3 linked regions of the Homo sapiens genome follow. The protein of the gene in region 2 interacts with the protein of the main gene of each other region in a biochemical or structural test. Each region holds a gene or a part of one and is shown on either strand. Other genes may lie near its edges. The genes, in order: EYA4, TRIM69 and UBE2H.

Evidence for each region.
Region 1: of the proteins of TRIM69 (region 2) and EYA4, one has a biochemical effect on the other in vitro, tested with the Homo sapiens proteins (one study listed by BioGRID).
Region 3: the proteins of TRIM69 (region 2) and UBE2H form a complex in vitro, tested with the Homo sapiens proteins (one study listed by BioGRID).

What each region holds. Positions count from the first base shown.
Region 1 is NC_000006.12:133,508,031-133,519,400, forward strand, and holds part of EYA4 (protein phosphatase EYA4), read left to right. Parts: intron 1-2,242; exon of another isoform or gene 2,243-2,696; intron 2,697-4,690; coding exon 4,691-4,749; intron 4,750-4,847; coding exon 4,848-5,008; intron 5,009-7,290; coding exon 7,291-7,405; intron 7,406-11,370. UniProt on the Homo sapiens protein: Tyrosine phosphatase that specifically dephosphorylates 'Tyr-142' of histone H2AX (H2AXY142ph). 'Tyr-142' phosphorylation of histone H2AX plays a central role in DNA repair and acts as a mark that distinguishes between apoptotic and repair responses to genotoxic stress.
Region 2 is NC_000015.10:44,739,528-44,750,897, reverse strand, and holds part of TRIM69 (E3 ubiquitin-protein ligase TRIM69), read right to left. Parts: intron 1-11,370.
Region 3 is NC_000007.14:129,850,163-129,861,532, forward strand, and holds part of UBE2H (ubiquitin-conjugating enzyme E2 H), read right to left. Parts: intron 8,780-11,370; coding exon 8,740-8,779; intron 7,402-8,739; coding exon 7,349-7,401; intron 1-7,348. UniProt on the Homo sapiens protein: Accepts ubiquitin from the E1 complex and catalyzes its covalent attachment to other proteins. E2 ubiquitin conjugating enzyme that transfers ubiquitin to MAEA, a core component of the CTLH E3 ubiquitin-protein ligase complex.

The sequences.
Region 1 (11,370 bases), on a different chromosome or scaffold from region 2:
TTAAATCCAGTTTGAGTTATATTTGAGACATGAGAGTAAAAATGAGTGGTTCAGTACATTCCATAAATGTGTGTGCTGAAATCTGTGTAATAGCATTTTGCTGTTGTTGTTGTTGTTTTTCTCTATGGTGAGTCATGTTTTTACTGAATAATACAATTACTGTCTGTTTAAAGCGGCATTCTTTTTTTTCTACAGTGGACAGTATGAAAGCTCATATTACTAGGCAAGCTTTCAGTTTTAGATAACAAATAATAATCACCTCTCTAAAACCTGATTTAAATTGATCCTGCTACTTATGAATACAGAATGATTTTATATATATATATCTGGTAATAACAAACACCTTAACCTTTCCACAACTTGAATTTTTTACATACAGCGATAACTTTTGGGGTTAGTTTTTCTGTTGATCAGTATGGATGAGTTGCATTGTAAAGAGGATCTTAATATTATTAGTCTTTTCAAAGGTATAAAAAGAAAAAAGAAATTTTATGTGGTAGTATCCAAGTAAAAGTGCTTATTTCATTTGGTTAATTATTTTTTACTGGAAATAAGTGGAATAAATGAACTTTTAGCTTTTGTAGTGGCACATTAGAAGCCAGATGGAATAAATTTGCTACCCAACTTTTAAAAGAACACTGCAGTGAGAAGGTGAAAGTAGCATATAATGAATTTGTAACTAACTAGCAAGTTTGAAATGAATATTGGTATATCAAAAACATGTTGTAGTCATGTATGGCACTTAAAGACATTTATTTTAGTTCAGGTACTATGTTATATGTATTTCAAAAATACCTGGCAGGATCTTTGGTAGAAGTAGTTCATGAGAAAATACTGGTATTGACTTTCTCTTCTCTGAGTATATAGCTTTTTAGTTGTGTTTTAGAATGTGATAAGAATTTCATTTGACTCAAACCCTAGAACTTAGCTATTCAACAATACTGTACTTAATCAATAAAATAATTGAGTTTCTGCAGATAAATTGAACTCTCACTGTATATGCGTGCCACACAAATGCTTGCACATCCAGATAAAGTGCCCAAGGAAACATAAATGATTTTTACTGACTTGAGTAAACAAGCACTAAAACCAATAGAATCAAAACAGTAGCTTTCAAAAGCATTCAGTACAGTTACATACATAGCGCCCTATCCTTCTGCATCTGACTTTGAAAGGCAGTTTTACTTTCACACAACTTTTTATTTCAATAAACCTCTTACAGCCAAAAATTGTCTTGGGCTCCATAACTGGAATTAAATGATTTCTACTCTTGTTGACAAAAAGAATTCCTCAAGAGAGTAACTCTAACATTAGCTTATTATGTTGTCATTGTTGATGTTGAATATTTAAGCTCTCAGGGTGCTTTTCTTAAAAAAAAAAAAAAAACCGAACCATCTAATTTGACACTCCATTCTTTCAGTAGATACTGCAACATATATAGTAGCAGCTGTTCCTCACATAATTCCTTAAAAGATACAAATTTAAATCCTCCTAATAGACACTTCACTGCATCCTGCCCAACTGCAGAGAAGGCAGATGCCCAAACTACCCTCCCCCAACAGAAGAGAATCCTGTGTGTTTAAATAAAGTGCTATTTCGGTTAGAATAACCTCCAGAAAAGAAGTCTCAGGAAGTTTGAGATGGCAAAGGTGAGAAAAGACTGCTGTGAATTATAACTGATAAATATCAGTGACCACTTTTTGGTCACTTTGTGAGACAAAATTAAAGTATTTAAAGTTAGTTCTAGAATATTTTCAAATGTTTGAGTTTTATTAAAATTTGTTAAAGCCAAAACATTACAGTGTTTTTAGTATTTCACTTTTTGGTCAAAATGATTCTTACAAAGTTTCTCAGAGTGAAAAATAATTGAAGGACAATTATTTAGCTTTTTCTAAAAATGTAAATAATGGAAGTTCAGGTTTCTTTCACTGGACCGTAATCCTCAGGCAACCGTCCAGAGTCAACAGGCATAGTTAACTAGGCATAAATTTAAAGAAAAGTTAAATTTGGAAAAACCTCAAATATAACCTCAATTATGGAGCTTATGGTCCAATAAGTGTGATATACTGTTGTCCTCAGGAGTAAAAGATAAGTTTTTGGGCAACCTATGTACAAATTAATCATGCGAGTTAATATTTAATGTCAGAGGAATTTCTCTAAAAATTACAATGAGAGGATATTAAATAGAGAAATAACTTCTGATTACCAGGGAAATTTACAAGGATTCCTCCACTTTTTTGAATGTCATTAATTTATTATAAAAGAGAAACACAGAAGTTATTTACATGTGGAAAGATTTCAGAGCTTCAATGGAATGGGCAACTTCATGTGACACCATTTCAATAGTGATTTATTTCAGTCTACGGACTTTCCAAGTATGTCACCATCTCTAAATAAGAAATAATCTCATCATTTAGAACTACTTTGGTGCCTCCATATTCTGGGAGAAAAACTTTATTTCCAACCCTTATGCTAATGGGTAAAATCTCTCCACTCTTTTCCTTAAAGCCCAGTCCAGCAGTTACTATCATTGCTTGCAATGCCTTTACTGGATGTTTTTCAGGAAGCATAATGCCTCCTTTGGTTACAGTTTGGACTGCACTCCTTTCAGCCAATACTTGGTCAAAGAGGGGAAGACATTTTCTAAATACCTGTCCGGCCAGGCCATTCCTTGGGCAGTCTCTGCACTCTTCTCTCTCCCTTCCTTCCACTCTTGACATAAATATCTTCTTACTCTCCTCACCATTTAGAATGCTTTTATTTTATATCATCGTAACCTTGTGTTAGAAAATTTAAATGATTGTGGTAATCCTGTAAAGAATTAGCATTTGTCTAGACTTCTCCCATTTATTTAAGAAAGAATTGTGGAGTGATTATTCTATGCTAGATTGTGCCGTAAGTGGGGATGTAACCTGGTGAACCAAATGCCGCACTCCAGGGCACTTCCAGTCAGATTAAATTTGGGGACCCATACGTGTAGGTGGAGATTTATTCAAAACTTACTAACCCTGTAATTTCTGTAAATTATATGAACTTTTAACTTACCTGGATTTTCAAGTTACATACTCAGAAGGTACTGATTGGGCTAGTCACTGAGTTTTGTATATTAAAGGAAGCCTGAGTCAACTATACCTTTAAACTGGAACCGGATTAAACACTTTCTGTGTGGAAATCTGGAGACTAGGTATGAAATATTTGACTGCCAGATACTTTCAAGCCCAATAATGAATATAAATAGTAGCTTTCAAAAAACCTTTGTTTAGTATGGTGTATTTTCAAATTTAATGATTTTTTTTAAAAATTAATTTTGAATGCTAAGCACTATGTATATAGTCAGAAGCTGTAAGTATGAGTAAAATACTTTGAGGGGGACTAAGGAGGCCCAAGATGCTAAACCATACTTACTCTGAGGTTAATATGATGTAGTTATTTATTATAAATAATTTATTTTTATTTATTATATATTTATTATTCTGAGAACTAGGCATTTTAAATGCCCTCACCAAATTTCACCTTTAGATCTTGTAATATTGCGCTGGAACTTTGCAGATTATTTGAAGATGGACTAAGACTCAGAACAGCAAAGAAGGATCAAATCCTTATCCACATAAGTTACCATTTGTTCTGAGCACACAGTAACTTACAATCAGGTCAACTGTGGCCGGGCGTGGTGGCTCACACCTGTAATCCCAGCACTTTGGGAGGCCGAAACAGGCGGATCACAAGGTCAGGAGATCGAGACCATCCTGGCTAACACAGTAAAACATCATCTCTAGTAAAAATACAAAAAACACAAAAAAATTAGCCAGGCGTGGTGGCGGGCGCCTGTAGTCCCAGCTACTCGGGAGGCTGAGGCAGGAGAATGGCGTGAACCCAGGAGGCAGAGCTTGCAGTGAGCCGAGATCGCGCCACTGCACTCCAACCTGGGCGACTAAGTGAGATTCCATATAAAAAAAAAAAAAATCAGGTCAATTGTGTGGGTATACTTACATAAAGTTTATTTTGCTTGGAATTTTGTAGCACATTTGAGATGATAAATCGTCATTATTTCCCTTTTACTTAAAAGTAGTCTTTTTGATTTGAAAATTTAAAAACTTGACAAAAAGAAAATGTCAATATCTATGATCATTACCCTTTTTCTGTGTCAAAAGACTAGGACCTTGAAATAACACCAGCATGGTTCTTTCATGGTTCTGGTCCAGCAGGAAGTCATGGAAATTCCACAGGACACCATAATCTGAAGGCAAGCCCCTCTGTTGCCACTCAACAAATGATAAATAATAGTAACCATCTGAGGTGTTCAGACTAAGTTTTGTGTATCTTCAGATTAGCCATGCTTAAGTATGCACAACAGAAATGGCCTGGAAGGGAACTCAAATGCTTATGAAGATTCAAGAGAATTTCTTATCAATAATTTTAAGATTAAAATTTTTAAATTGCTCTAAAGAAACTCTCATGCCGTATATTTTCTCACCCCTCCTTTCTATGGAACTCTTCTGGATTTAAATTTTGTGGGGTAGAAATGGTGCCATTTCCCAACAGAAGAAAACAAGAGTGAGGCAATGAGATGGACGGGCACATGCTGCCATCTTCTGGTGGTAGTCTGATCAGATGAGAAGATGGGAAAACCTTCAAGCATGGTAACAAGCATCATTTAGAAAACAAATAACTTTTCCAATGTTTTTAACAGGAGTGTGATCAAGTTCATATAGATGATGTTTCCTCTGATGATAATGGGCAGGACTTAAGGTAAGCTATGCCTTTCAGTATGCTGTTTCCTACAGAAATTCGGCTGTGGAGTTTTGCACATGTAATTATTTCTTTTTAATGTATTTTGGGTGTTACAGTACCTACAGTTTTGCAACTGATGGCTTCCATGCAGCTGCAAGTAGTGCAAACCTTTGTTTGCCAACAGGTGTAAGAGGAGGGGTTGACTGGATGAGGAAGTTGGCTTTTCGTTACAGAAGAGTAAAAGAATTATATAACACCTACAAGAACAACGTTGGAGGTATGTGTGGCTTTTTCAATCTAACAAAGGTACTCTGGGTATAGGTAGAATTCAATCTGTAGTTTCATGTTAAAGATGATTCTGCTGTAAAAGAAACAAGCAAAAGCTCATATTAAACCACATTGAGCCAGAAGTTTCTTAGAATTGGTGGGAAAAAATTTAACTACAAAATAAAACATGCACCACCGTCACATAAATTGGGAATTCTTTGTGTAACCTTGTGCCCAGATGTTTGGTCAAGATTTATACCAGGGCATTTAGTTGACCCTTTATCAGCTGGTGCTTGGAGCATTATCAGTGAAAATCAGACAGAGGAACTAACCGAGGCAACAGAAAGAAGTCCTTTCTCAAGTAGAGAGCCTCAATCATTGAAGGACGGTGGTTAGCAAGCATTATCTTTCTGGAATCCCATCAAAAATAAATATAAACAGTTATTAATGTCATTTCAAAGACTTTCAACAGGTTTATTTTATCTTTTAAAAAAATCATGTTTTATGTCAGTGTATCATTCTCATGCATAGTGTCAACTATGATTATCATAGTTTTTAAAAGTTCAAATAATCTGTAGGTAATATCAAAACCATTTTATACCCCTTCATATATTTTACAGGTGATATCAAAACCTTTGCTATCAAAACTGTGATCCTGGATGTGCTTCTATATATAAAATAAACCTTGGTGATATCTTATTAGAATCAATTTTAGGTAAACAAGATTCCTAAAATTTGCTATTAGGTCACATCAGATTAATCTCCCAGGATTTTGTTTCTTTATGTGCTTCTCTTTTTTTCTAAAAAGGAAGAGTAATTGAGGAACATAAACTAGAATCCAATATACTAAATATACATGTGCATACTATACATACATATATTCACATATATATCATAGAATACAATATAGTAAATAAAATGTTCATATATAGTATATAATCACATATATCCATATACATCATGAGGGTGGGGCTATGTGTCTGGTCACCTTGTATCCCCAGTGCCTAGCAGTGAAACACATAAGAGATGCTCAACAGATACATAATAACTGTAAGAGAACAAAAAATGTAGAGCCAAAGAGGATAATAATGTTAGCAACAAAAGGGAGCTTAGATATGGAAGACATTCATTTCCAAAAAGAAATTGACCCCTGCAAGCTGCCGACTTGCATGGGGTGCTGGGGAGAATCTCTGATTTCCTGATTTGCTCTAGTGCTCTGTACATGATGCTTTTGTAAAATCAAATAAGTAGATTTTCTAGTTAAAATCAATGGTAGATAATATGTTTTAACTTTAAAATAAATATCCCCTTGGGAAATCTGAGTTAATTTTTATCATTCAGATGTCATCATTTCCTTCTTGCGGTGTATTAATAAAATTATTTTAAGTTAACAAGAAGACTAAGAAGTAATCTTGTATCTTAGAAACTTTAAACAACCACGAGTCTACTTTCTGTCATACGTGAGCATCTCTCTATTATAATGAGGACAAATGAGACTTGCTAGAAACTGTAAATTTTGATTGAAAAAACCATACAAGTGTGTATGTGCTCCCGATATTCTAAAACACAATTTCAATAAGAAACCTTCCTTTTTAATGGATTTACATGATCTTGTTTTATCATAAAAGCAAGAACTGGATCTTTTAAAATAAAAAATTAGCACATCTATCTTTTTTCTTTTAACATCAATATTATAATTCATGATTGTAACTGTCCTACACTTCATGATTTTAAACAAAATTATTAATTTTTTACATAGCAAAGTATTTATAGTAGCATTAGCAGTAGTATTAGAAACATTTTAACAGCTACATATGATGATGCCATTGTTACTGTTTGAAAGTGGAAATGATTGTGATTATTAAGAAGCTAAACGTTTTCAGACAGTCAAAACATTTGGGATTTGTGTCCCTAGGTTGGTGAAGCCCAACTATTCCTCCAGACCTCAAATATCACAGTCCCTTGGAATAAGATCCAGGCAGGGGCATGTTCAAAGCTCTTTAGATGATTGAGATCCACTGCGCTAGATTGTAGGATCAGTGAGGGCAGAGACTGGGGCCACTTTTCAGTGGCACTACCTGAGACCTAGAAGTTCAGTAAATATTCATTGACGGAATCAATGGATATTCAATTCAGAAACGAAGGATCAATATGGACATAAATCTGTATCTCTCTGCATTTCTGATATATACTGAAATAAAAATGATCTATTCCAGACAGAAGGGAATCTAAACTAGATATTCTGAGACAATATTCATCTCTCGACTCTGCCTTGGTTTTTTGGTGTTGCAGGACTCCTTGGCCCTGCCAAGAGGGATGCCTGGCTACAGTTAAGGGCAGAGATTGAAGGTCTGACAGATTCCTGGCTAACAAATGCACTTAAGTCTTTATCAATTATTAGCACTAGGTAAGTGGAATTGTTACCTTTCTATGTGTATCGTATTGAAGATTTAGTTCTAATTGTACAACATAGAAAAAATGTTTTAATTCCTAGACTGTTTTAGACTTTAAGGGACCTAACAATTCTGAGTTCAGTGATTTTTTCAATTTCAGTGCATGTGCATGAGAGAGAGAGAGAGAGAGTGTGTGTGTGAGTGTGTGTGTGTGTGTGTGTGTGTGTGTGTGTGTTGGGATGAGAGAAGGTTGCTGCTTCTCAGAATAAACAGGAGACCCTATCTCACCACCCATCTCTTCTCATAGCAACTGATAATCCCCACAGAATGGTTACATGACTTCTAATGAAAAAAGAAAGAGAACTCAGTTGGTGGCAAAGTACAAGGGGGTGATGGCAAATATGAAACAGTACTGTTGATACAAAAAGGCATGTTTTAGGTGTTAGGCCATAATGGATAATACACATAATGTAAGCACATCAGAAAAGCAGGAGAAAGCTCTTGAAAAAATTCTAACCATTTTGTTGTTTGAACTAAACAGTGAAATTCTGACTTGTGTCAGTATACAGAGCAGAATTAAATTGATTTGTAACCAGTTGTACAACCAGGTGCCAAATATGCTAATTCATAAAGTGATGTAAGTAAGTCTGGAACGTGATAGCTGGTAAGGTAGAGTTGAATCTCTGTACTGTCCGCTTCCATTATTTTATATCTGAGTTAGGTGAATAAATAAAAGCATGCTTAATAAGTGGGAGCTAAATGATGAGAACTCATGGACACATATAGGGAAACAACAGACACTGGGGCCTACTTGAGGGTGAAGGGTAGGAGGAGGGAGAGAATCAGAAAGAGTAACTGTTAGGTACTAGACTTAGTACCTGAGTGATAAAATAATCTGTATAGCAAAACCCCGTGACCTATATAGCAAACATGCACATGTATCCCTGCACCTAAAATAAAAGTCAAAAAAAAAGAATCTGTCAGCATTTCCATTAAGAAAAGATTAATGGGTCAGGCGCAGTGGCTCATGCCTATAATCCCAGCACTTTGGGAGGCCGAGGCAGGTGGATCACGAGGTCAGGAGATTGAGACCACCCTAGCCAACATGGTGAAACCCCATCTCTACTAAAAATACAAAAAAAAAAAAACAAAATTAGCTGGTCGTGGTGGTGCACACCTGTAGTCCCAGCTACTCGGGAGGCTGAGGCAGGAGAGTTGCTTGAACCTGGGAGGCGGAGGTTACACTGAGCTGAGATCATGCTACTGTACTCCAGCCTGGAGACAGAGCAAGACTCTGTCTCAAAAAAAAAAAAAAGTAAAGAAAAGATTAATGAGAACGTGCAGTATTTGCTTTTTTGTTCCTGTGTTAGTTTGTTAAGGATAATGGCCTCCAGCTCCATCCATGTCCTGGCAAAGGACATGATCTCATTCTTCTTTATGGCTGCATAGTATTCCATGGTGTACATGTACCACATTTTCTTTATCCAGTCTATCATTGATGCACAGTTAGGTTGACTCCATGTCTTTGCTATTGTGAATAGTGCTGCAGTGAACATGTGTGTGCATGTGTCTTTATTATAAAATGATTTATATGCCTTTGGGTATATACCCAGTACTGGGATTGCTGGGTTAAATAGTAGTTTTGTCTTTAGATCTTTGAGGATTCGCCACACTGCCTTCCACAATGGCTGAACTAATTTACACTCCCACCAAATGCCGCATGTTCTCACTTACAAGTGAGAGCTAAATGATGAGAACATGTGGACACATAGAGGGGAACAACACACACTGGGGCCTTCCAGAGGGTGGAGAATAGAAGGAGGGAGAGGATCAGCAAAAAGAAAAATGGGTATTAGGCTTAATACCTGGATGATGAAATAATCTGTACAACAACCCCCCATGACACAAGTTAACCTATGTAACCAACCTGCCCTTGTACCCCTGAACTTAAAATAAAAGTTGGAAAAGAAAAGATCAATGAATAAGATGACAAATTGTTAGTTTTAAAAAAAGAAGAAAAAAGCATGCTTAATAAATGTATGGGGAACACAGCATTCAGAGAAAGATTTATTTGGACTAATTGAATCAGAATGCAGAAAAGCCTGACAGGGCAAAAAAAAAAAAAGTTAATATTAAGAACATGAAAGTAAATGAATAGTTGTCACATCCTGCACAGCTTCTGACTCGTGGCACAGGCAGAGCTGCATGGATAGCAGAAAGTCCAAATGGAGAGCGGAGGGGAAGTAGCTTCCTGTGTCTGACTGGGGAAGCCATGGCAGCTTAGTTTGTCAGTTCTAGGGACCATATTCCAGTGGGGGCTGTGGCAGGGTTGAAGCAGCCTGTGTCAAGTGTGGCAGTCACGGGTTTGGACTGTGGGAACCACCTAAAAGAAACAGATGGAAGGAGGAGCCAGAGAGCTTAGTCAGAAGAGTCATGTGCAGAACCAAGATTACCAATTTCACCTGTTTCAGACGTTAGGCTGAAAATCAATTAGATTTCTCCCTGTGTCTGGAAAGGAAAGAACTGGGACCAATGAGTAGGAATCCTGCAAGGGAGATTCTGGCTCTATATAAGGAAGAAATGTCTAAACCAGTTGAAATGGGACTTGCTATCTCATGTCCTCTGTAATTGGTGACAAGAGAGACCAAATGTCAGGGACGCTGGAGCACGAGGACCCCTGAGCCACTGACATGATGTGTAAAATGTAGTGGAGTGTGCATTTCTCTGAGAAGGAGGTTGATAGCTTTCATTATTTCTAAAAGATGTCTTCTATATAAGTTAAAAAAGATGATTACATTATTAGATTATATATACTATATAATATATACAGATTAATTATTAAACAGATGGCTTTAAGGCAACTAAAGGAATATGTGATATTCCAGAAATAAATAAAGATATAACAAGGAAGGGAGGAGAAAAAGAAATCAACATACATTGAGTAGTTACATGCTATGGAATTTGCTGAGTTATCCACATATATTACCATATTGATACAATTGCAGTTTTGCCATTACTTTTAATGGCAAAAAACAAAATTGCTTTTGCACCAACCCAATAGTTTTCACAAAATGCCTGGAATGTCAGAAAAACAGATGCTTTGTTGAATTATGTAGTAGAACCCCTAGCAAAATTAACTTACCCTCTGACCCTAATTATTCTGTGAATATAGTCTCAGAATAACGAAAGATGTAAGAATATATTTTGGTAGCATTACTTGTAATATTTAGAAATCAAAAGCCACTTAAGCAACTCAATTTAACTCTAAAAAATTCTGGTGCATCCCACACCACACCTATTCCAAAATTGACCACATACTTGGAAGTAAAGCTCTCCTCAGCAAATGTAAAAGAACAGAAATTATAACAGACTATCTCTCAGACCACAGTGCAATCAAACTAGAACTCAGGATTAAGAATCTCACTCGAAACCGCTCAACTACATGGAAACTGAACAACCTGCTCCTGAATGACTACTGGGTACATAACGAAATGAAGGCAGAAATAAAGATGTTCTTTGAAACCAACGAGAACAAAGACACAACATACCAGAATCTCTGGGACGCATTCAAAGCAGTGTGTAGAGGGAAATTTATAGCACTAAATGCCCACAAGAGAAAGCAGGAAAGATCCAAAATTGACACCCTAACATCGCAATTAAAAGAACTAGAAAAGCAAGAGCAAACACATTCAAAAGCTAGCAGAAGGCAAGAAATAACTAAAATCAGAGCAGAACTGAAGGAAATAGAGACACAAAAAAACCTTCAAAAAATTAATGAATCCAGGAGCTGGTTTTTTGAAAGGATCAACAAAATTGATAGACCGCTAGCAAGACTAATAAAGAAAAAAAGAGAGAAGAATCAAATAGACGCAATAAAAAATGATAAAGGGGATATCACCACCAATCCCACAGAAATACAAACTACCATCAGAATACTACAAACACCTCTACGCAAATAAACTAGAAAATCTAGAAGAAA
Region 2 (11,370 bases):
AAAAAATCAGCCAGGCGTGGTGGCAGGCGCCTGTAGTCCCAGCTACTCGGGAGGCTGAGGCAGGAGAATGGAGTTAACCCAGGAGGCAGAGCTTGCAGTGAGCCAAGATCGCGCCACTGCACTCCAGCCTGGGTAACAGAGTGAGACTCCGTCTCAAAAAAAAAAAAAAAAAAAAAAAAAAAGAAAAAGTAATGAAATAAAAATGCGATTCTTTGGAGGGAAAATCCACAAAATTTAGAAACCATTAAGTAGACTGATGAAGAAAAAAAGAGAGAAGATTTAAATTACTAAAATCAGAAATGAAAGTGGGTAAATTAGTACAGATCTTACAGAAATAAAAAAGGATTATAAGAAACTATGAACAATTGTATGCCAACAAATGAACAACCCAGATGAGATGGAAAATTTCCAGAAGCACACCAACTACCAAAACTGACTCAAGAAGAAACAGAAAATCTGAACAGACCTACAAAAGTAAAGAGAGTAGATCAGTAATCAAAATCCTCCCAACAAAGAAAAGCCCAGGACCAGACGGTTTCACTGGTAATCCTGCCCACTATTTAAAGAATTAATATCAATCCTTCTCAAACTCTTCCAAAAAAACAAGAGGGAACACTTCCTAATTCATTCTGTGAGGATAGCTTATCTTGGTCCTAAAGACAGATAAAGACATCACAAAAAACAAACTATTTTTAGTTTTCTTTTTGCAAAAGAGTGAAAAGACAACTCACAGAATGGAAGAAAATATTTGCAAATCCTATACCAGATAAGGTCTATTATCCAGAATAAAGAACTCTTACAACTCAATAGCAAAAAATAAACAACCCAATTTTTAAAATGGACAAAGGACTTGAATAGACAATTATGCAAAGAAGATAAACAAATGACCAACAAGCACATGGAAAGATACTTAGTATTACTAGTCATTAGGAAAATTCAAATCGAAGCCACAGTGAAATACCACTTCACACTCACTTGTATTGCCGTAATTTTTTAATGGAAAACAATAAGTATTGGTGATACAGAGAAATGGACTCTTGTACATTGTTAATTGAGAATATAAATTGGTGCAACCACTGTGGAAATCAGTTTGGCAGTTCCTCAAAAAATTAAACAAAAAACTACCATAAGACAGACCTACCAATTCCACTTCTAGGAATATACCCAAAAGAACTGAAAACAGATAGTCAAACAAAAACTTGTACCTAAATGTTAATAGCAGCACTATTCACAATAGGCACAGGTGGAAGCAATCCAAATGCACATTAACTAATGAATGGAAAAGTGTGCCATATTCATACAATGGAAGATTATTCAGTCAGAAAAGGGAATAAAGTATTCATACATGCTACAACATGGATGAACCTCAAAAACATTATGCTAAGTGAAAAAACCCAGACACAAAAGGTCACATATTACACGATTCCATTTATATCAAATATACAGAATAGGTAAGTCTATAGAGACAGCAGATCATTGGTTGCCAGGGCTGGAGAGAAGGAGATATGGGGAGTGACTGCTCATATCACTGGAAGTGACTGGTCATGGGGTTTCCTTTTGGGAGGACGAAAATGTTTTGAAACTAGATAGAGGTGATTATTATACACCATTGTGAACGCACTAAATGCCACTGAATTGTACATCTTAAAAGATTAATTTTATGTTGTATGACTTTTACCTCAATTTTTGAAAAAATGGAAGCTGTAGGCCAAGCATGATGGCTCACGCCTGTAATCCCAGCACTTTGGGAGGCCAAGGCAAAGCTTGATCGCTTGAGCCCAGGAATTTGAGACCAGCGTGAGCAACATGGTGAAACCCTGTCTCTACCGGAAAAAACAAAAACAAAAACAAAAACTGGGTGTGGTGTCACGTGCCTGTAATCCCGGCTACTCGGAAGGCTGAGGCTGGAGAATCGCTTGAACCTGGACTGTTAAGGCTGCAGTGAGCCTAGATCATGCCACTGCACTCTAGCCTGGGCGACAAAGTAAGACCCTATCTCAAAAAATTAATAATACTAAACTGAAGCCATTTGACTCCGGAGCCAGAATTTTTTTTTTTTTTTTTTTTTTTTTGAGACAAAGTCTCACTCTGTCGCCCAGGCTGGAGTGTAATGGCATGATCTTGGCTCACTGCAACCTCTGCCTCCCAGGTTCAAGCGAGTCTTCTGTCTCAGACTCCCGAGTAGCTGGGATTACAGGCATGCGTCACCATGCCTGGCTAATTTTTTGTATTTTTAGTGGAGACAGAGTTTCACCATGTTGGCCAGGCTGGTCTCGAACTCCTGACCTCAAGTGATCCACCCACCTTGGCCTCCCAAAGTGCTGAGATTACAGGCATGAGCCACCACGCCCAGCCCAGAGCCAGAATTTTTATACTGAATAATATCCTGCTTTGCAGAATGCTATATAATGCCTTCCAGGGTGGGCTACTATTTGATGAATAGCCACCAGAAGTGGCCACCAGAAGTGGCTTCAATCTCAGTGCCTAAAGGTCTAATGGTGTAAATAAACATTCAGTGATGGCAGCTTTGTTTCTATGCCCATACTTCCTGGGTCATAGAAATGAATAACATAGAGGCTCTGCCCAAGAGCTGCTCACATCTGGACCTCCACTACATTTATGGGACCAGGACAAAGTGCAACTAGAAGTCCCTAGCTTCTACTTTTCAACTTGCATATCATCTTCCTCTGAAGGATAAAAAACTTAAATATAGACAGAAGATGTATTCTGAGGCAAAATCCCTGAGAGTTTGTCCAGAGGTTACTCTTCTGTTCTTGAGAGGAAAACTGGAGCTCAGAGGAGTACGAACTTGCTCTGACACTCAAGTCACTGGTGAAATCAGGGAATTCAAAGAACTCTATCCTGAAGGCCAGAGCAATTTCCATCTGCTATATATCCACTTGAGAATTGGAGTATCCAGAACTGCTCTGTTCCTCATTCCTAACCCTGCCCATTCCTCGTTAGAAGTTTACATTTACCTCTCCTTATGGGCTTAGTTTCCCTTATATTCAGATTTATTCTAGCCAGGGGAACATGGCTAAACATTCTTTGCCTCATGATCAAATTCCATTCTCATTAATAACTATTTATATTGCCCTCATTCCATGTCTACATTCTCACTTTTGTTGTGAAAATGCTTTTGATTGAGTCTGTAGCCCTTTGCTCCATAGTTTCTCACATAGCCTGTGTTCCCTATTGCTGATGCCTGATCTCCCCAAACCTGGGTCTTGCCTGTCTGGACCTAATACGGCCATCTTCTCTTTGAATGTTGCCTTTCAACCATTCTCTGTAGCCTCTTTTTCTGAAATTCCTATCAGACAGATGTTGACGCTTCTCACTCCAGTCTTTATTTCTATTAATTTCTTTTTCATATCTTCTAACTCCATAACTTTCTGTGCTTTGCTTTGGACATTTTCTCCCATTTTGTTGTTTTATAGATGCTATTTATTTTGTATTTCTTTAAACACCTTTGAATGAGGTGAGTTCTTCCTGAATCAGCTATTTGCAAGAGACTTGTATGAGGATGGAGGCAGGGTTATATTTGAGGCTATTTTCTTTATAAAACAATGTTTGCATGGGTTCTTTTTTCCCCATGATCAACACTGCAGGGTTGTTTGCAATGCAGAGTCTCTCTCCTCCATTCTACCTCAGCAACAGACTGCTTTCTGAAAATATGGCATATTTGTCCTTGTTCAACTTCACCTTTCCCATATCTCAAATCTGTATAACAAATGGGTTACTCCAGCTTAAGCCTGCTTGCCTGTTCTCTTTGTTCTGTACCAGGGCTTGTGGGTTGTGGCCAACAGGATGGGGTACTTTCTTTGGAAAAGTACCACCTCCCTTCATGTAAGGTCTGCTTCCCTAGGCATCCTTTCTCACATTCCTGCTTGACTTTCACTATATTTGGCAGTCCTTCCTCATAGATTGTAGTCCAAGCTATTTGATGTCTCTAGTTTCATTGCAAATTATTTGTCTATTTTTCATTCTCCTTGTGGTTTTTGACTTAAAGAAGGATGAGTTTCTAAGAGAAGGGAGAAAATTAGTTTTTAATCCACCATTTAAAAACTAACACTTAAATTGTTATTGACACTTTAACGTTTCTATATATTTAAAGAAAGATGTGTGTGTGTGTGTGTGTGTGTGTGTGCACGTGCACGTGCTGGGAGTGGGCAGAATATTTCAAATGTCCTCAATATATGAATTTGACTAGACTGGGTAATGGACTTTCAGCATTAATCAGTGTGGATGCCTTTCCTGAAAGATAACAAATTTACCTCCAGCCCACAGGAATGGGAATGCAAAGCCAATATTTAGTGTTATAGAAAATACTATGTGCTATTCTTTGCACACTTGAGTTTTAAACTAAGATTGATTTCTTTTTTTATATACAATTATTGGTTTATGCTATTATCTTTTAAAACTTTAGAAAAAAAAGAAGAGTTACAAACCAAAAATAGGTAGTTCTTTGATGAGTGCTTTTTTTATGTCTTTGTCTGGGTTCAAGTTATTGTCTAATGTCCCTTCATTTCAGCTTGAAGAAGTCCCTTTGTCATTTTTTGTAGGTAAGATCTACTAGAGATAAGCTCAGTTTTTGTCTGTCTGAGAATGTCTTAAATTCTTCTTCATATTGGAAAGATAGTTTGGCCAGATACAAAATTCTTTGTGGATTATTCAATTACTTTGAAGATGTCATCCCATTGCTCTCTGGCTTCCATGATTTCTGATGAAAAATTAGCTGTTAACTTATTGAGGCTCTCTTGTACATAAGTCACTTCACTCTTGCTACTTTTAAGATTATTTTTGGCTTTTAATAGTTTAATTATAACTTGGTGTGGCTCTCTGTTAACTTACATAGAGTTTGTTGAGCTTCTTTGATGTATAGCTTTATGCCTTTTGTCAAATTTCAAAAGTTTTAAACCATTATTTCCTTAAGCATTCTTTCTGTCCCCTTCTCTCCTCTCTTCTGGGACTCCAACTATGCATAACAGTCCCACAGGTTTCTGAGGCTCTGCTCATTTTTATTCATTCTTTTTTTTCCCTGATCTTCAGCATAATCTCAATTGACCTATTTTCAGTTTCATGAATTCTTTCTTTTGCCTGCTCAAATCTGATTTGAACACTTCTTGCGAATTTCTCATTTCAGTTATTATGCTTTTCAACACCATAATTTCTCTTTGGTTCCTTTTTATAACTTCTACATCTTTGCTGGTATTCACTATTTGGTGAGACATCAGTCTCATGGTTTCCTTATTTGCAAATTGTTTCCTTTAGCTATTTGAGAATATTTAAAATAATTGATATAAAATCTTTGTCTAGTGAGTCCAATGTCTGAGCTTCCTCAGGAATAGTTTCTATTAATTTCCTTTTCTCCTGTCCATGGGCCATATGTTCTTATTTATTTATACTTGTTGAATATCCGATACTTTGACAAGTATAATGTGAAATCTCTGGAAATCAGAATCTTCCACCTTCTCTGGGGTTTTTTGTTACTTCTTGTTGTAGTTGTTTTGTTTAGTTAGTGACTTTTCTAAACAAATTTTGTAAAGTCTGTATTCTTCGTCACATGTAGCTACTGAATTCTGTCCCATGAACTTAGTAGTCATCTAATAGTTCAACAGAGATTTCCTTAAATGCCTAGAATCAACCCAAATCAAACAACAACAACAACAAAAACCTCCCAGTCTTTGTAAATGGGCTTCGTATATGTTGAGCATGCCTTCAACACACAGTTTACAACTTCCTTAGTCCTCAGTTCCTGCTTACACAGATCCTAAAAGTCACTCCGAGAAGAAAACTTGGGGTCTTTCTCAGGTTTTTTTTTTTTTTTTAGTATGCACTCAGTCCTGGGCATGCAGTTGGCCTTCTAGATTACCAGGAATATGTGGGTACTTTTCAAAGGGTATTCCCCAAAATAACTCTTTCCCCAGCCTTTCTTTCTCAGCTTTTTGGTTACTCTATTGTTTGCCCCAACTATTATGCCTTTCCCCAGGTGGCAGCAATAAAAACATTTGCTTTTAAATGTTTCCAAACTATACCTCCAGGGTAGCCATCTCATCTGTGAAAAAGTTCTGAGTTAAACAAACTAATGGCAAGCCTTTTATGTAATACTTCATGGAAGCACCAGACAGGTCAAAGCCACAGTTCTTTGGGAATAAGGTCCATGCTGCTCCCACTTGTACTATGTACCTGTAGTTGGAATGTCAGCTGTCTTTAAAACCACCACCAAGATGGGAAATGAGGAAAACCTGAGTAAGTTAAAGTGTTAAAAAGTTATTTTACAGAGATTCAAGGTTTTATTTAATTATTATTAAATATTTCCCTGGTTGCTGTAAGCTTTTGATTAGTTTCAAGTTTTAAAAAACTCGATCTTCAAAATTTTTGCCAGTTTTTGTGGAGGGATGGACTTTGGGACTTCTCTACTCCACCATTTTTTTTATTATTATTATACTTTAAGTTTTAGGGTACATGTGCACAATGTGCAGGTTAGTTACATATGTATACATGTGCCATGTTGGTGTGCTGCACCCATTAACTCATCATTTAGCATTAGGTATATCTCCTAATGCTATCCCTCCCCCCTCCCCCCACCCCACAACAGTCCCCAGAGTGTGATGTTCCCCTTCCTGTGTCCATGTGTTCTCAGTGTTCAATTCCCACCTATGAGTGAGAACATGCAGTGTTTGGTTTTTTGTCCTTGCAATAGTTTACTGAGAATGATGATTTCCAATTTCATCCATGTCCCTAAAAAGGACATGAACTCATCATTTTTTATGGCTGCATAGTATTCCATGGTGTATATGTGCCACATTTTCGTAATCCAGTCTATCATTGTTGGACATTTGGGTTGGTTCCAAGTCTTTGTTATTGTGAATAGTGCCACAATAAACATACATGTGCATGTGTCTTTATAGCAGCATGATTTATAGTCCTTTGGGTATATACCCTGTAATGGGATTGCTGGGTCAAATGGTATTTCTAGTTCTAGATCCCTGAGGAATCACCACACTGACTTCCACAATGGTTGAACTAGTTTACAGTCCCACCAACAGTGTAAAAGTGTTCCTATTTATCCACATCCTCTGTAGCACCTGTTGTTTCCTGACTTTTCAATGATGCCATTCTAACTGGTGTGAGATGGTATCTCATTGTGGTTTTGATTTGCATTTCTCTGATGGCCAGTGATGGTGAGAATTTTTTCATGTGATTTTGGCTGCATAAATGTCTTCTGAGAAGTGTCTGTTCATGTCCTTTGCCCACTTTTTGATGGGGTTGTTTTTTTCTTGTAAATTTGTTTGAGTTCATTGTAGATTCTGGATATTAGCCCTTTGTCAGATGAGTAGGTTGCGAAAATTTTCTCCCATTTTGTAGATTGCCTGTTCACTCTGATGGTAGTTTCTTTTGCTGTGCAGAAGCTCTTTAGTTTAATTAGATCGCATTTGTCAATTTTGGCTTTTGTTGCCCTTGCTTTTGGTGTTTTAGACATGAAGTCCTTGCCCATGCCTATGTCCTGAATGGTAATGCCTAGGTTTTCTTCTAGGGTTTTTATGGTTTTAGGTCTAATGTTTAAGTCTTTAATCAGTCTTGAATTAATTTTTGTATAAGGTGTAGGGAAGGGATCCAGTTCCAGCTTTCTACATATGGCTAGCCAGTTTTCCCAGCACCATTTATGAAATAGGGAATCCTTTCCCCATTGCTTGTTTTTCTCAGGTTTCCAAAGGTTAGATAGTTGTAGATATGCGGCATTATTTCTGAGGGCTCTGTTCTGTTCCATTGATCTCTATCTCTGTTTTGGTACCAGTACCATGCTGTTTTGGTTACTGTAGCCTTGTAGTATAGTTTGAAGTCAGGTAGCATGATGCCTCTAGCTTTGTTCTTTTGGCTTAGGATTGACTTGGCGATGCGGGCTCTTTTTTGGTTCCATATGAACTTTAAAGTAGTTTTTTCCAATTCTGTGAAGAAAGTCATTGGTAGCTTGATGGGGATGGCATTGAATCTATAAATTACCTTGGGCAGTATGGCCATTTTCACGATACTGATTCTTCCTATCCATGAGCGTGGAATGTTCTTCCATTTGTTTGTGTCCTCTTTTATTTCATTGAGCAGTGGTTTGTAGTTCTCCTTGAAGAGGTCATTCACGTCCCTTGTAAGTTGGATTCCTAGGTATTTTATTCTCTTTGAAGCAATTGTGAATGGGAGTTCACTCATGATTTGGCTCTCTGTTTGTTATTGGTGTATAAGAATGCTTGTGATTTTTGTACATTGATTTTGTGTCCTGAGACTTTGCTGAAGTTGCTTATCAGCTTAAGGAGATTTTAGGCTGAGACAATGGGGTTTTCTAGATATACAATCATGTCATCTGCAAACAGGGACAATTTGACTTCCTCTTTTCCTAATTGAATACCCTTTATTTCCTTCTCCTGCCTAATTGCCCTAGCCAGAACTTTCAACACTATGTTGAATAGGAGTGGTGAGAGAGGGCATCCCTGTCTTGTGCCAGTTTTCAAAGGGAATGCTTCCAGTTTTTGCCCATTCAGTATGATATTGGCTGTGGGTTTGTCATAGATAGCTCTTATTATTTTGAGATACATCCCATCAATACCTAATTTATTGAGAGTTTTTAGCATGAAGCGTTGTTGAATTTTGTCAAAGGCCTTTTCTGCATCTATTGAGATAATCATGTGGTTTTTGTCTTTGGTTCTGTTTATATGCTGGATTACATTTATTGATTTGCGTATATTGAACCAGCCTTGCATCCCAGGGATGAAGCCCACTTGATCATGGTGGATAAGCTTTTTGATGTGCTGCTGGATTCAGTTTGCCAGTATTTTATTGAGGATTTTTGCATCAATGTTCATCAAGGATATTGGTCTAAAATTCTCTCTTTTGGTTGTGTCTCTGCCCGGCTTTGGTATAAGGATAATGCTGGCCTCATAAAATGAGTTAGGGAGGATTCCCTCTTTTTCTGTTGATTGGAATAGCTTCAGAAGGAATGGTACCAGTTCCTCCTTGTACCTCTGGTAGAATTCGGCTGTGAATCCATCTGGTCCTGGACTCTTTTTGGTTGGTAAGCTATTGATTATTGCCACAATTTCGGAGCCTGTTATTGGTCTATTCAGAGATTCAACTTCTTCCTGGTTTAGTCTTGGGAGGGTGTATGTGTCGAAGAATTTATCCATTTCTTCTAGATTTTCTAGTTTATTTGCATAGAGGTGTTTGTAGTATTCTCTGATGGTAGTTTGTATTTCTGTGGGATCAGTGGTGATATCCCCTTTATCATTCTTTATTGCTTCTATTTGATTCTTCTCTCTTTTCTTCTTTATTAGTCTTGCTAGCAGTCTATCAATTTTGTTGATCCTTTCAAAAAACCAGCTCCTGGATTCATTAACTTTTTGAAGGGTTTATTGTGTCTCTTTTTCCTTCAGTTCTGCTCTGATTTTAGTTATTTCTTGCCTTCTGCTAGCTTTTGAATGTGTTTGCTCTTGCTTTTCTAGTTCTTTTAATTGTGATGTTAGGGTGTCAATTTCGGATCTTTCCTGCTTTCTCTTGTGGGCATTTAGTGCTATAAATTTCCCTCTACACACTGCTTTGAATGTGTCCCAGAGATTCTGGTATGTTGTGTCTTTGTTCTCATTGGTTTCAAAGAACATCTTTATTTCTGCCTTCATTTTGTTAGGTACCCAGTAGTCATTCAGGAGCAGGTTGTTCAGTTTCCATGTAGTTGAGCGGTTTTGAGTGAGTTTCTTAATCCTGAGTTCTAGTTTGATTGCACTGTGGTCTGAGAGACAGTTTGTTATAATTTCTGTTCTTTTACATTTGCTGAGGAGAGCTTTACTTCCAACTATGTGGTCAATTTTGGAATAGGTGTGGTGTGGTGCTGAAAAAAATGTATATTCTGTTGATTTAGGGTGGAGAGTTCTGTAGATGTCTATTAGGTCCGCTTGGTGCAGAGCTGAGTTCAATTCCTGGGTATCCTTGTTAACTTTCTGTCTCGTTGATCTGCCTAATGTTGGCAGTGGGGTGTTAAAATCTCCCATTATTATTGTGTGGGAGTCTAAGTCTCTTTGTAGGTCACTCAGGACTTGCTTTATGAATCTGGGTGCTCCTGTATTGGGTGCATATATATTTAGGATAGTTAGCTCTTCTTGTTGAATTGATCCCTTTACCATTATGTAATGGCCTTCTTTGTCTCTTTTGATCTTTGTTGGTTTAAAGTCTGTTTTATCAGAGACTAGGATTGCAACCCCTGCCTTTTTTTGTTTTCCATTGGCTTGGTAGATCTTCCTCCATCCTTTCATTTTGAGCCTATGTGTGTCTCTGCATGTGAGATGGGTTTCCTGAATACAGCAAGCTCCATCAGCTCCTTTAAGCACTTCTCTGTATTGGTTATTCTAGTTATACATTCATCTAAATTCTTTTCAAAGTTTTTAACTTCTTTGCCTTTGGTTTGAATTTCCTCCTGTAGCTCGGAGTAGTTGGATCATCTGAAGCCTTCTTCTCTCAACTTGTCAAAGTCATTCTCCATCCAGCTTTGTTTTGTTGCTGGTGAGGAACTGCGTTCCTTTGGAGGAAGAGAGGCGCTCTGCTTTTTAGAGTTTCCAGTTTTCCTGCTCTGTTTTTTCCCCATCTTTGCGGTTTTATCTACTTTTGGTCTTTGACGATGGTGATGTACAGATGGGTTTTTGGTATGGATGTCCTTTCTGTTTGTTAGTTTTCCTTCTAACAGACAGGACCCTCAGCTGCAGGTCTATTGGAGTTTGCTAGAGGTCCACTCCAGACCCTGTTTGCCTGGGTATCAGCAGCGGTGGCTGCAGAACAGTGGATTTTCGTGAACCGCGAATGCTGCTGTCGATCATTCCTCTGGAAGTTTTGTCTCAGAGGAGTACCCGGCCATGTGAGGTGTCAGTCTGCCCCTACTTGGGGGTGCCTCCCAGTTAGGCTGCTAGGGGGTCAGGGGTCAGGGACCCACTTGAGGAGGCAGTCTGCCCATTCTCAGATCTCCAGCTGCGTGCTGGGAGAACCACTGCTCTCTTCAAAGCTGTCAGACAGGGACATTTAAGTCTGCAGAGGTTACTGATGTCTTTTTGTTTGTCTGTGCCCTGCCCCCAGAGGTGGAGCCTACAGAGGCAGGCAGGCCTCCTTGAGCTGTGGTGGGCTCCACCCAGTTCGAGCTTCCCGGCTGCTTTGTTTACCTAAGCAAGCCTGGGCAATGGTGGGCGCCCCTCCCACAGCCTCGCTGCCGCCTTGCAGTTTGATCTCAGACTGCTGTGCTAGCAATCAGCGAGACTCCATGGGCGTAGGGCCCTCCGAGCCAGGTGCAGGATATAATCTCCTGGTGCACCGTTCTTTAAGCCCGTCGGAAAAGCACAGTAT
Region 3 (11,370 bases), on a different chromosome or scaffold from region 2:
TCGAGACCAGCCTGGACAACATAGTGACACCCCCATCTCTAGTATAAATAAAAAATTAGCCTGATGTGGTGGTGCATGCCTGTAGTCTCTGCTATTTGAGAGGCTGAGACAGGAGGATCACTTGAGCCCAGAAGGTTGAGGCTGCAGTGAGCCACGCTGCACTCCAGCCTGGGTGACAGGGCAAGACCTTGTCTCAAAAAAAAAGAAAAAAATAACAATTAGTAGGAATTCAAACACTCAAAGAATGTTTGCAACATACATGATAAATACATTTAAATCTCAGTAGTAGCATTTTGGTTTTTAAGTATTCAAAGCTAGAAACAGGTGTTCCTGTGCTGTGTGGGAAAGGGCAATATGAAAGATGCAGGGCGCTGGCCTGGCGTGGTGGCACACGCCTGTAATCCCAGTACTTTGGGAGGCCGAGGCAGGTGGATCATGAGGTCAGGAGTTCAAGACCAGCATGGCCAAGATGGTGAAATGCTATCTCTACTAAAACCACAAAATTAGCCAGGTGCGGTGGCAGGCGCCTGTAATCCCAGCTACTTGGGAGGCTGAGGCAGGAGAACTGCTTGAACCCAGGTGGCAGAGGTTACAGTGAGCCGAGATTGCGCCACTGCACTCCAGCCTGGGCGACAGAGTAAGACTCTGTCTCAAAAAAGAAAGAGAGAGAGAGAGAAAGAGAGAGAGAGGGAAGGGGGATGGGGGGAGGGACAGAGAGAGAGAAAGGAGAGAGAGAGAAAGAAAGAAAGAAGAGAAAAGAGAAGAGAAAAGATAGATGGACAGATGGATGCAGGGTGCTGAAACTGGGAAAACCAGCCACATTCTGCTCAGGGCCAGGCTACCAGGCCACCAAACTGAGGTGTGTAGTTACAGGACATAGACTGTTTTTAAAGCATTCCAAACCCGCTTAAAAGGTAATTTCCCATTCATTGCCTAATTGTAGCCCCTTTCCCCCCAACATATTTAAACTTCAGAGAGTTGCAGAAGAAAATAAGTGCTACTGCATAGATCACAATGAAGAAAACAAGCTCTTGTTCATCAAAAACACTGCTCTTGTTGCATTGTCAATCTCAAAACAATTCTCGTCTATTTGGGTGTTTTTTAGAGGTAATTCATCCTCGTTCAAACCTTATAACCCTGCTTACCTTAAGAGCTTGTAAGCTAAAACATGGTAATAGGATTTGTTATTAACCTTCCAGAAATGAGGGCAGTTAATGTGTAATTAGCTAGCTGGATAGTCTTGCTGTCATACTAAAACTCGCTATTCAAGCTTGTAATTACTAGACAATAATTTAGTTGTTAATATCAGAAAAGAATAACAAGAGGTAACTTCCTGCAATTACAAGCCAAGTGTCCATACGCTGGGAAGACTTTATAACTCAGTAATCGTAAGTGAATGAAGATAAAACAAATCAAGGTTACATTTACATATAATCAAGAATGAAACAAGCCCTAAAATCAGAGCCCCTACGAAAGTAGAGCATAGCTGTGGCTGTCTTTCAGAGCCATACCCTGGCTGGCTCATGTCCCACGATCCAAAAAGCCTGGACCACCCCATGGTTTTAAAGCTGACCACCAGTGAGTGTGGTATTTTTAATGAATGTCCACTAAGTTGTTCAAAGCCAGCAAGACTCCATTTTTATGTATATAACTAGTTAGACTCCTGAGCCACATACACCTCATCTGAAGATTTCCAAGCAGACAGATAAAGAAGGTTGGTTACGGAGCTAGCTAAGCACTGTTGAAGCGCAAATCCACAACTGAGCACATTTCTTTATTATGTACAACAGGTGACATTATCCCAATAGTACTGGACAGAATTGCTCTACTTGGCCTCTATCTACAAATAATGACATCCAGCTGTTCCAAAGGCAGGATGACGTTTGTGATTCAACATGGACAGATCAATACTGAAGTTCTCAAGCTGTTCAAATAGTAGTTGGCCAATTAATCATCCATGAAGACACATACATGTATTTCTTATCTGTGTAGTTACACTAAAATGTTTAGGAAACAGCATGCACTAATCCAGCATAAAGCATTATTTTAAGATATACCTTCTGCCAAAATCTGAATTATTTGGGAAGATTCACAGACTATCTAACTGAAAAGGGGATGGGATAAGTGTTAAATTTGTATTTTAAATTTCTAAATGCCTGGTAAAATAAATTTTAGGTGCCTGTAGTCCCAGCTACTCGGGAGGCTGAGGCAGGAGAATGGCGTGAACCCGGGAGGCGGAGCTCGCAGTGAACTGAGATCGTGCCACTGCACTCCAGCCTGGGCGACAGAGCGAGACTCCGTCTCAAAAAAAAAAAAAAATTTGTATCTCTTGCCTAATCTCAAAGTCCTTGAAGTATTCCTTCTGTTGTAGTCAATTTTATTTGCCTGTTACTAACTCCCCAGATAACTCTAGGGGAAGACTTTTCCCAAATGTTGATTTTTCTCTCCAGCAAAATAAGAGTAGAAGTATCTAGTCCACTGGCTAGCAACCCTAAGAGTGAAAATGTAAACTGCCCAATTTCATAAGAAAATTGTCTTCCACCTCACTTCTCCACAACTTTTTTTTTTGTTTGTTTTTTTGAGATGGAGTTTTGCTCTTATTGCCCAGGCTGGAGTGCAATGGTGCAATCTGGGCTCACTGCAACCTCCGCCTCCCGGGTTCAAGCAATTCTCCTGCCTCAGCTGTCCGAGTAGCTGGAATTACAGGTATGCGCCACCACGCCTGGCTAATTTTGTATTTTTAATAAAGATGGGGTTTCTCCATGTTGGTTATGGCTGGTCTCGAACTCCCGACCTAAGGTGATCCGCCTGCCTTGTCCTCCCAAAGTGCTGGGATTACAGGCATGAGCCACCGTGCCCAGCCTACAACTTAATCCATCATATAAATAATTTACGAAGGCAGTCAAAGAATGAGTAAAATGAAAGCTGGAGAGAGAAACACATTTGCAGGGATCAAGCATGCCTGGTCCAGAAGGGTGGGATGAGAGAGAGATTAAAGCTGTATCGCAGTGAAGGCACCTGGGCCCCCAGGAGTGCAGGGTGATAAGCCAACTACAGATAAAATATATTTTGGAGAAAAAAAGGAAAACTGGAAAATAGAAGAGTGCTTAAAAAGCTACCTGTGGCTTAATGAACTCTCCTATCAGTCCTTAAAATTAATTTGTTTTGAAATGGAAATCCAGATCCCCTTGGCTACATTTTATGTTTCTCAGAGCTTCTGTCACTGCTGTCTGGAAGAGCAGGAAGGGATGCAAAAAAAAAGATGCTATCATGCAGGAAGCCAAAATCACTTTGGTCATCTGCTACTTTCTGTTTAATGTCATAACAATAACAATAGATAACTTCATACTTGATAACTTCATACTGATGGCAAGCATCTTACAAAATTAATCCGATTCCTCACTATAATTAGCTCTCTTGTAAGGTTAAATAATACAAAATTAAAAATTACTGGGTGAGTAAACCACAATTATACCAATTTTGAACTCTGAATAAACAAATTGCACATACACTTGGCAAAGAGAAAACAGGATAAGAACAGAAGCAATGAGTCAACTGGCTTACCAGAAATCAATGGCGGGGAAGGGTGTGAGGGGACAGAGGACTAAATTTACTGCTAACATGAATGTTGTTTAATATCAGGCTATGATTAACATACATCTGAAATTTCAACTGTGAATTGTTGTTACGCTACAAATATGTATACCCACAGAACAGTACATGTCCTGGGGCAAGGTAAATGGCAGGAAATTTCACAATCCACTCCCTGCTCCCTCATCGAATCTACAGCAGAGGAAAGTGTTGAAACAAGTTTTAGGTGCCAGGCTTAGCCTTTTGCTTTTCAGTTGAATATTTATGTTGACACGCCAACTTTCTCCTATTAGTTATTTAGTGTTAGTTTTTTTTTTTTTTTTTTTTTTGGCGGGGCAGGGGTTGGCGGGGGCAGTCCTTTGAACTAAGATTCTCTCAGGAACCACTGCAGGAAATGAAGTGATTCAGAACTCACCAATTATGAACTAACCTTCAATGCCAGAGGCTTTAACAGTTTCTAATAAAAATTCAGTTCAGATCTCAAGTTCAGATAAGTCTGAAAAAACACTTCAAGGTCATCTGAACGAACATATTCTACCAGTACTTTATATAATTGTATTTACCTGTTCCTAAAACTTTCCGTGAAAGAAATGTTGAATTTTCTTCAGAAATAGTTTTGAGCAAAATGTCAAAACAATTCTCCCATGCTCAGTGTACTTTTGACTATACTCTGAAAATATTTCTTCTTGTTTTCCTGCACTTACCTGTTAGTGTGCTCACACTCCTGTATTATGGAACATGTTCAGTAACTCATACACATGTAACACAGAAGTCTGCTTTCAGTTCACTTGGACCAACGTGGTTTAACTCTTGCTGCTTATTAAATGCTTTGCAAGCTAATGTAAGTACACTAACATTTTATAAATGTGATGAAAACTTACTCATGTTGGCCACTTTACAAAGTAGTCTATCAGTCCTCAAATAGTTAAACATATTATCCAGCAATTTCACTCCTAGGTATATACCCAAGAGAAATGCAAACATGTCTACACAAATACTTGTGCACAAATATTTATAACACTCATAATAGCCAAAAGACAGCAATAACCCAAATGTCTATTATCTGACAAATAATGTGGTTTATCTACACAATGAAATATTATTCAGCCATAAGAACTTCCGATACATGCAACACGGATCAACCTTGAAAACATTATGCAAAGTGAAAAAAAAAACAGTCACAAAAGACCACATATTATATAATTACGTTTCTAAGAAGTGTCCAGAAAAGACAAATCCACAGAAACAAAAAGCAGATTCGTGGTTGCCTAGGGCGAATAGTTAAAGGGTACACATTTATTTTTGAGGTGATGAAAATGTTCTAAAATTGACTGTGGTGATGGCTGCATATAACTGAATGTATTAAAAACTACTGAATTACACACTTTAAATGGGTGATTTGCATGTCTGTGAATTATAATTCAGTGAAACTGTTATTTTTTTAAAAAACCTGTTCTGAGACATGAAGTACTTGACAGTCAGCAAACATCTTTCACAAAGCTTTTCTGGTCAATGGTAAAAGCTTTAGCAAAACTAAACATCAATTTACTTCATTGTAATTGGAACCAGATTGCAGTATTTTGATATGTACATTTTTAAGATGTGAATGTAGTTTAAGAAAACACATCATTACATCAGATATTCCAGGCAGCCTGCCATGAGACATTTTTACCAAAAAAACCATCTTAAAAGGAATCCATTTAATCAAGCTCGGAGTGTATGTTCTTTCTTGTTGCCTCAACTATATGCCATCATCTCCCCTAAAACTCTCTTGTTAAACAGTTCTGGACATGATTAATTCACTCATTAAGACAACAAATAGTCGAACCCTTATTGTGCACCAGGCACTGTTACAGTCACGTGTGCGTGTGCGTGTGTATAGAGAGAGAGAGACGAGAACAAGACAAAGTCCTCACTCATGGTGCTTACAATCCAAGGGGATAAGATAAATAATATACAAATACCAGTTTTAGAAGCTTATTGAAAACGGGGTACTAGCCAGGCATGGTAGTATGCACCTATAGTCCCAGCTACTGGGGAGGCTGAGATGGGAGGACTGTTCGAGCCTAGGAGCTCAAGGCTGCAGTGAGCTATTATCGCACCACTGCATTCCAGCCTGGGCAACAGAGTGCAACTCTGTTTCTATGTATTAAAAAATAATTTTAAAATTAAAAAATATATATACAACTGGGTGCTGTGCTATGGAGGGGTGTGATTTCAGATGGAGTAGCTGGGAAAGGAAACTGCTCTGAGGAAGTAATATGTGAGATGAGTGAAGAAGGTGCTAACCACACAAAGATCAGGGGGGAATATCCCAGGTAGAGAAAATAATTTTTGAACGGCACAATCAGGTGGAGGCAGGGATTAACTGTGTTCTGCTGGTGACCAACCTTTCTCTGTGATTCTCATTTACCAATCTAGTTCAAGGATATCTGGCAAAAGTAACTTGCAGATTGTGGCTGGACTAAGAAGTCTTACCTACCTCAGACCACTAAAAGGTCGTACAAGTTCAACAAGAAGCAGCCATCCCTGGTTAAGCTCAGCCTCAACTGAGCTTTCCCTTCTTTTCTTGTGCCTCTCAGCAATGGTTACCTGTACCATTCATTCTTTCAACCCATACTGGTGAAGGGCACTGTGATAAGAGTCCTGGGCCTTACAGATGAATCAGACACACACCCGATAGCCCTTAAGATAGGAAATAATCTAGTAGCACAAAAAAATAGGCATAAACAACAAATACACAGTAGAAAGTAAAAGTGGACCATAAAAAAGGAGCTATAAAATGTAATGGTATCCAGAGATTACTTCCAGCTGGAGAATCAGCGGAAGTATACGGGGTAGGAGCACTGGAGTAGGTAGACTCTATGAAGCCTGAGATTTGGACATGTGGAGGGAAAAACAGATTTATTTGTTGTATCCCTAATTAACTTCAAATACACAACTGACCCTTGAACAACATGGGTCCACACACAGTTTGAACTGCATGGGTCCATTCACATGTGGTTTTCAATAAATACAGCTAGCCCTCCATGTCAGTGGGTTTCACAGGGATGACTGTGGGACTTGAGTAAGCATGAATTTTGGTATCTGCAGGTGGTCTGGGAACTGATCCCCTGCAGATACCAAGAGATGACTGTATTTTAACATATTTTCAGCTCCCCAACCAGGTGATAAGGAGGAAAGGCCTGATGCTCTTTATAACTCTCTGGGATATTCAGCATAGCATTTTGCAGAGCTGGGCAATTCATTTGTTGATTCCCTGTAAGAGATGGGGTGTCAATTTCAGCACTGAAGGTAAGGCTAAATTACTCTTCCTTCATAAGGAGGTTTTGGTCTTTGAAAAGATGATCCCCTAAAACCTCTTACTATATCATTGCTCTCTCATTTCAGAGGGACATTCCTAAGTAGTTTTAGTTTTTTCCAAAACCAAAATATGTATATATTATGTGCTAATACATACATATAAAATGTTTGCACATGTATTCATGTGTGTGCGCATGTACTCATGTGTGTGCACATGTATCACTATACCTTAAGTTTGGAATCTCAAAAAATCATTTTAAACTTCCACAGCTAAACTGATATATTTGTACTTAAGAGAAAACATTTTTTCCACTGATCAAACTTTCCCAGTCGGTCCCTCAAAAATCCCTTCCCATTACCAACAAAACATCTTAAACCAGAAAAGAAAAGCCAAACAACATTTTTTTAGGCAATGTCTCAACATCTCCAAAAAATATTCCATGGCCAAACTCACCATAGAGAGCTGTCCAAGTTTGATTAATTACATCTAGACACACAGTTCCTGACCTGAAACAGATGGAAAGAATGGCATGTTTTTAAAAATTAGAAAGTTAGTTGCATGTATCTGGCAACTAATTTTTACTTATCAAGAGAAATACTTCTAATAGATCTGTGAAAAAAAGAATCCCAATTGGGGAAAAGTATGATGAGGAACAGAATAGTACCAGGTCTTGAAGTGTCACCTTACAGACTGAAAGGGGAAAATAGTAACTATGCAATGGAGAAACCAGACAACACCTGAACCAGGTGCTGAGAACACAAGGGGCAGACAGACCTTGTGTGTCTCTGAATGTGATACCCCAAGAAGGACACCATCTTACTTTGTAGTTTTCTGGCCTTAAGTGTGTTCATGCCCTGAATCTAATGATCAGGAAACATCAGACAAACACAAATTGAGGAACAATCTATAAAATAACTGGTCTATGTTATTTTAAAAAGTGAATTTTATAAAAGATAAAGGCAGGCTGAGGAACTAATCCTGATTAAAGCAGTTTAAAGAAACATGACAACTAAATGTAATGTGTGATTCTAGACTGGATCCTTTATTGAAAGAAAAAAGTGCTAAAAAGTAAGTTACTGGAATATGGCAGTAGATTAAATAAGTATTGCATTAACGTTAAATTCCTGAATCTGACAACTATATACTGTGGATAGATAAGAGAATATCCTTGTTAGGATAACTGATACAATAAAATATTAATATTAAAGGACTAAGGGGCATGATGTATGTATATATACAACCTACTCACACAGAGTGCAGAAAAACCTGTTAGGTATGTTTGTGAGAGACAGTAAAACTTAGTGCCATGACAAATTAAAATTGCATCCCAAACAATAATATATTCTAAACAGCACTAGAAGTATAAAACAGGATATGCTGGAATATTTTAAAGTATCATTAATAAAATATTAGAAGGAAAGAAGGGGATAAATAAGATTCATTAACTGAAATGAAACTATAGTCATTTTGCCTTACTATCTATCAAGAATTGAGAAAATATTATAAGATCTGAAAATAGTCTATCTGTAGGCTGAAAACAGATCTCTGAACTGTGTCTACAAAAAGAGAAGTGAGATGTGGAATATTACTACTGTTTGCTGGGTAACAAGAAAAATGAAGGACCCAGTCACGACAATGGAAAAAAATAAGTGGTACAACAGCAGAATGTGAACTAAGTGATTGAGAACCTCATATCCTTTGGATTCTATCATTTACATGACCATTCATACAGTCCTACCTCCTGATAAGGTCCAAAAAGATAACCGAGGCTTTTTATAACACAGAGAAACACTAATCATGAGCAGTTGCTGCTAAAATTGAAACATTTTAAAATAGTTACTTACGCTTCATCAATGTTGGGATGGAAAATTTTATTCATGAATCCTGTAAAAAGAGATGTTAATTAGCAGCAAAAAGTATCCAGAGAACAATAAAAGTATTTCAGTACTGGAAACAATTTCAGTATTGGGAAAAGGTGATAATACTTATAAATCACTACTTTCAACCTTAGATCTTTCATTACTGATAAACATTATATTCTCCTGATAGCTCCAATTATTTGGAATACATCAGCATTCTATTAACAAATGAGCAAACTGGGAGAAATGCAGCTTCTTATACAAAACAATCATTAAAGCAACTGTTTTCTGAGCTATGAAGGTACTGCTCAAAGATAAATTATACTACTAAATGGTTCATAGCCAGTGTCATGATAAAAGTTAAGAAACTTCACTCTCCCAGAAGTTTTGTTGTTCAAGCTCTAAATCTGGAGGTTCTGCATTTCAACTTCTCCTTCTGACGCTCACTTACTGGTATCACTTGGCTGCACTGTGCACGGAACATGAATGAAACTGTTGAAATGCTAAAGGAATACCACTTCAAACCACAAAGGATTTCCTAAAAGCAGTGACCAAAATATTTCCTTTAACATTAGTCTACTCATTCAGGGAAACCCAGTTTTGATTAAAATTGGGGCAACCAAGCAAGGAGTTAAAAAAAATACTCTAAGTTGGCTATATCTGTTGGAGGTTTAAGTTTTTAAAATTTTTCCTAGCAAACCAAGTACACACTTTAATAGCTATATGGCCATTTGAACTTCAAGGAGAAATTAATAAAACCAGTTATTCAGTCAGTCAGTATATATGCAAATGGCAATATTCTAAAGCAGAGATCCATTGTCAAAGGTGTCATTTTGTCATCCTTATCACTTCATTTCCTTTTAGGACTCATTCTGTTCCACACTTTCAATATCTGAAGTTCCTTATTAAGGTGAGTATCACCACCACTATCTCCGACCCCCATCCTCCATCACCCCCATCCCCACAGTCTCTCTCTCTCATATTCATTCAGAACATATTTGGTCAGCACCTACACCGCAGGCATTGTGCTTGGATAGGGTATAAAAATAAGACAGTTCACTATTCTTGAGGAGGTCACTGTGGCAGTGGGACAAGAGACACCAATAAATACCTGCAATCTGAATAAAGTATTGATACAGTAGGCGGAGTAAAATGGGAAGAGTCAGGAAAGATGCAGAGAAATGGCACTGGAGGAGGAGCCTCAAGTGAGGCGCTACAGAGATTGTCTCCAAAAACCTGAGAAACTTCCCCTGAAGTAGAAAACAGGGGATAAGAATACCAAGTCCAAGTAGTCCAGTCTTAGACCACTCTAGTCACTCACACTTTTAACTTTTGTTTTTAAATGCTCTGTGTTGAAACAGCATAATGTTCTATCTACTACAATCAAGAGGGCCTATGTGATGTTTAAGTTACTCTGATGAAAAAAAATCTTTGTGTCCAATATTAATTTTTCATTAAGGAAATTAAAGATGTTTCAAAGTCTAGATTTAAGAAGCATGTGGTTTATGAAGACATTTTAATAATGGGAAATGTTCATGTCTTGGTATTAAGAGGAGAAAAATTAGGGTAAAAAACATTCTACATTAACTTTAGAAAAATACTAATACACATGTCCCAGATGCCCCATGAGAGTATTTGTTGCAATATTATTTATAAAAGCCAACAGCCAAATTCAACCCTGTCAATGGGATAGGGTTGGATAAAGGGGAGTACATCCATCTACCTGAGTCCTATACAGCCAAGGGTAATGAAGTAGATCCATGTGTATCAACTTGTATACATCTAAAGCTGAGTTTTGTTTTTTTTTTTTAAGTTGCAGGATGTTATATTTACAGGCTGAGGTTATTTAAATAAACTAAAACAAACAACTACCAATTCTCCATGGTAACAAGTATAGGAAAACTGTACTGAACCAACATATACCAAATTTGCAAAAGTAATTGTTTCAGTTAGGGCACAGGGCCAGGGTCATGATAGGAAAAGGGAACAGAAGAGGAAACAGTGGTTAAAAATGACTTTATCTGGCCAGGCACGGTGGCTCATGCATGTAATCCCAGCACTTTGGGAGGCCAAGGTGGGTGGATCACCTGAGGTCAGGAGTTCAAGACCAGCCTGGCCAACATGGTGAAACCCTGTCTCTAGTAAAAAGAAATAAAAAATTAGCTGAGTGTGGTGGCGTGTGCCTGTAGTCCCAGCTACTCGGGAGACCGAGGTAGAGAATCACTTGAACCCAGGAGGCGGAGCTTGCAGTGAGCCAAGATCACGCCACTGCACTCCAGCCTGGGTGACGGAGTGAGACTGTCTTTAAAAAAAAAAAAAGACTTTAACACTATTAATATATTCCTTTTAAAAAGGGACAATGTGCTTCTATATTATTTGCTCTGTTTAAAACATATGCACATAAATAAGAAACTGAAAGTAAGTACAAATGTTAACAGTGTAGAATTCTTAGTGGTGGTAGTATTTTCTCCGCTGCACTTTTCAAATCTCATCACCACCTCACCACACCTGAACCAGAACTAGGATCACAGCAATGGGAAAAGGCTAGAAGAAAACAGGTGTGGATGGTTGTCATGTTTGCAAGATTCTCCCATTATTTCTACTTGCACTTTTGGC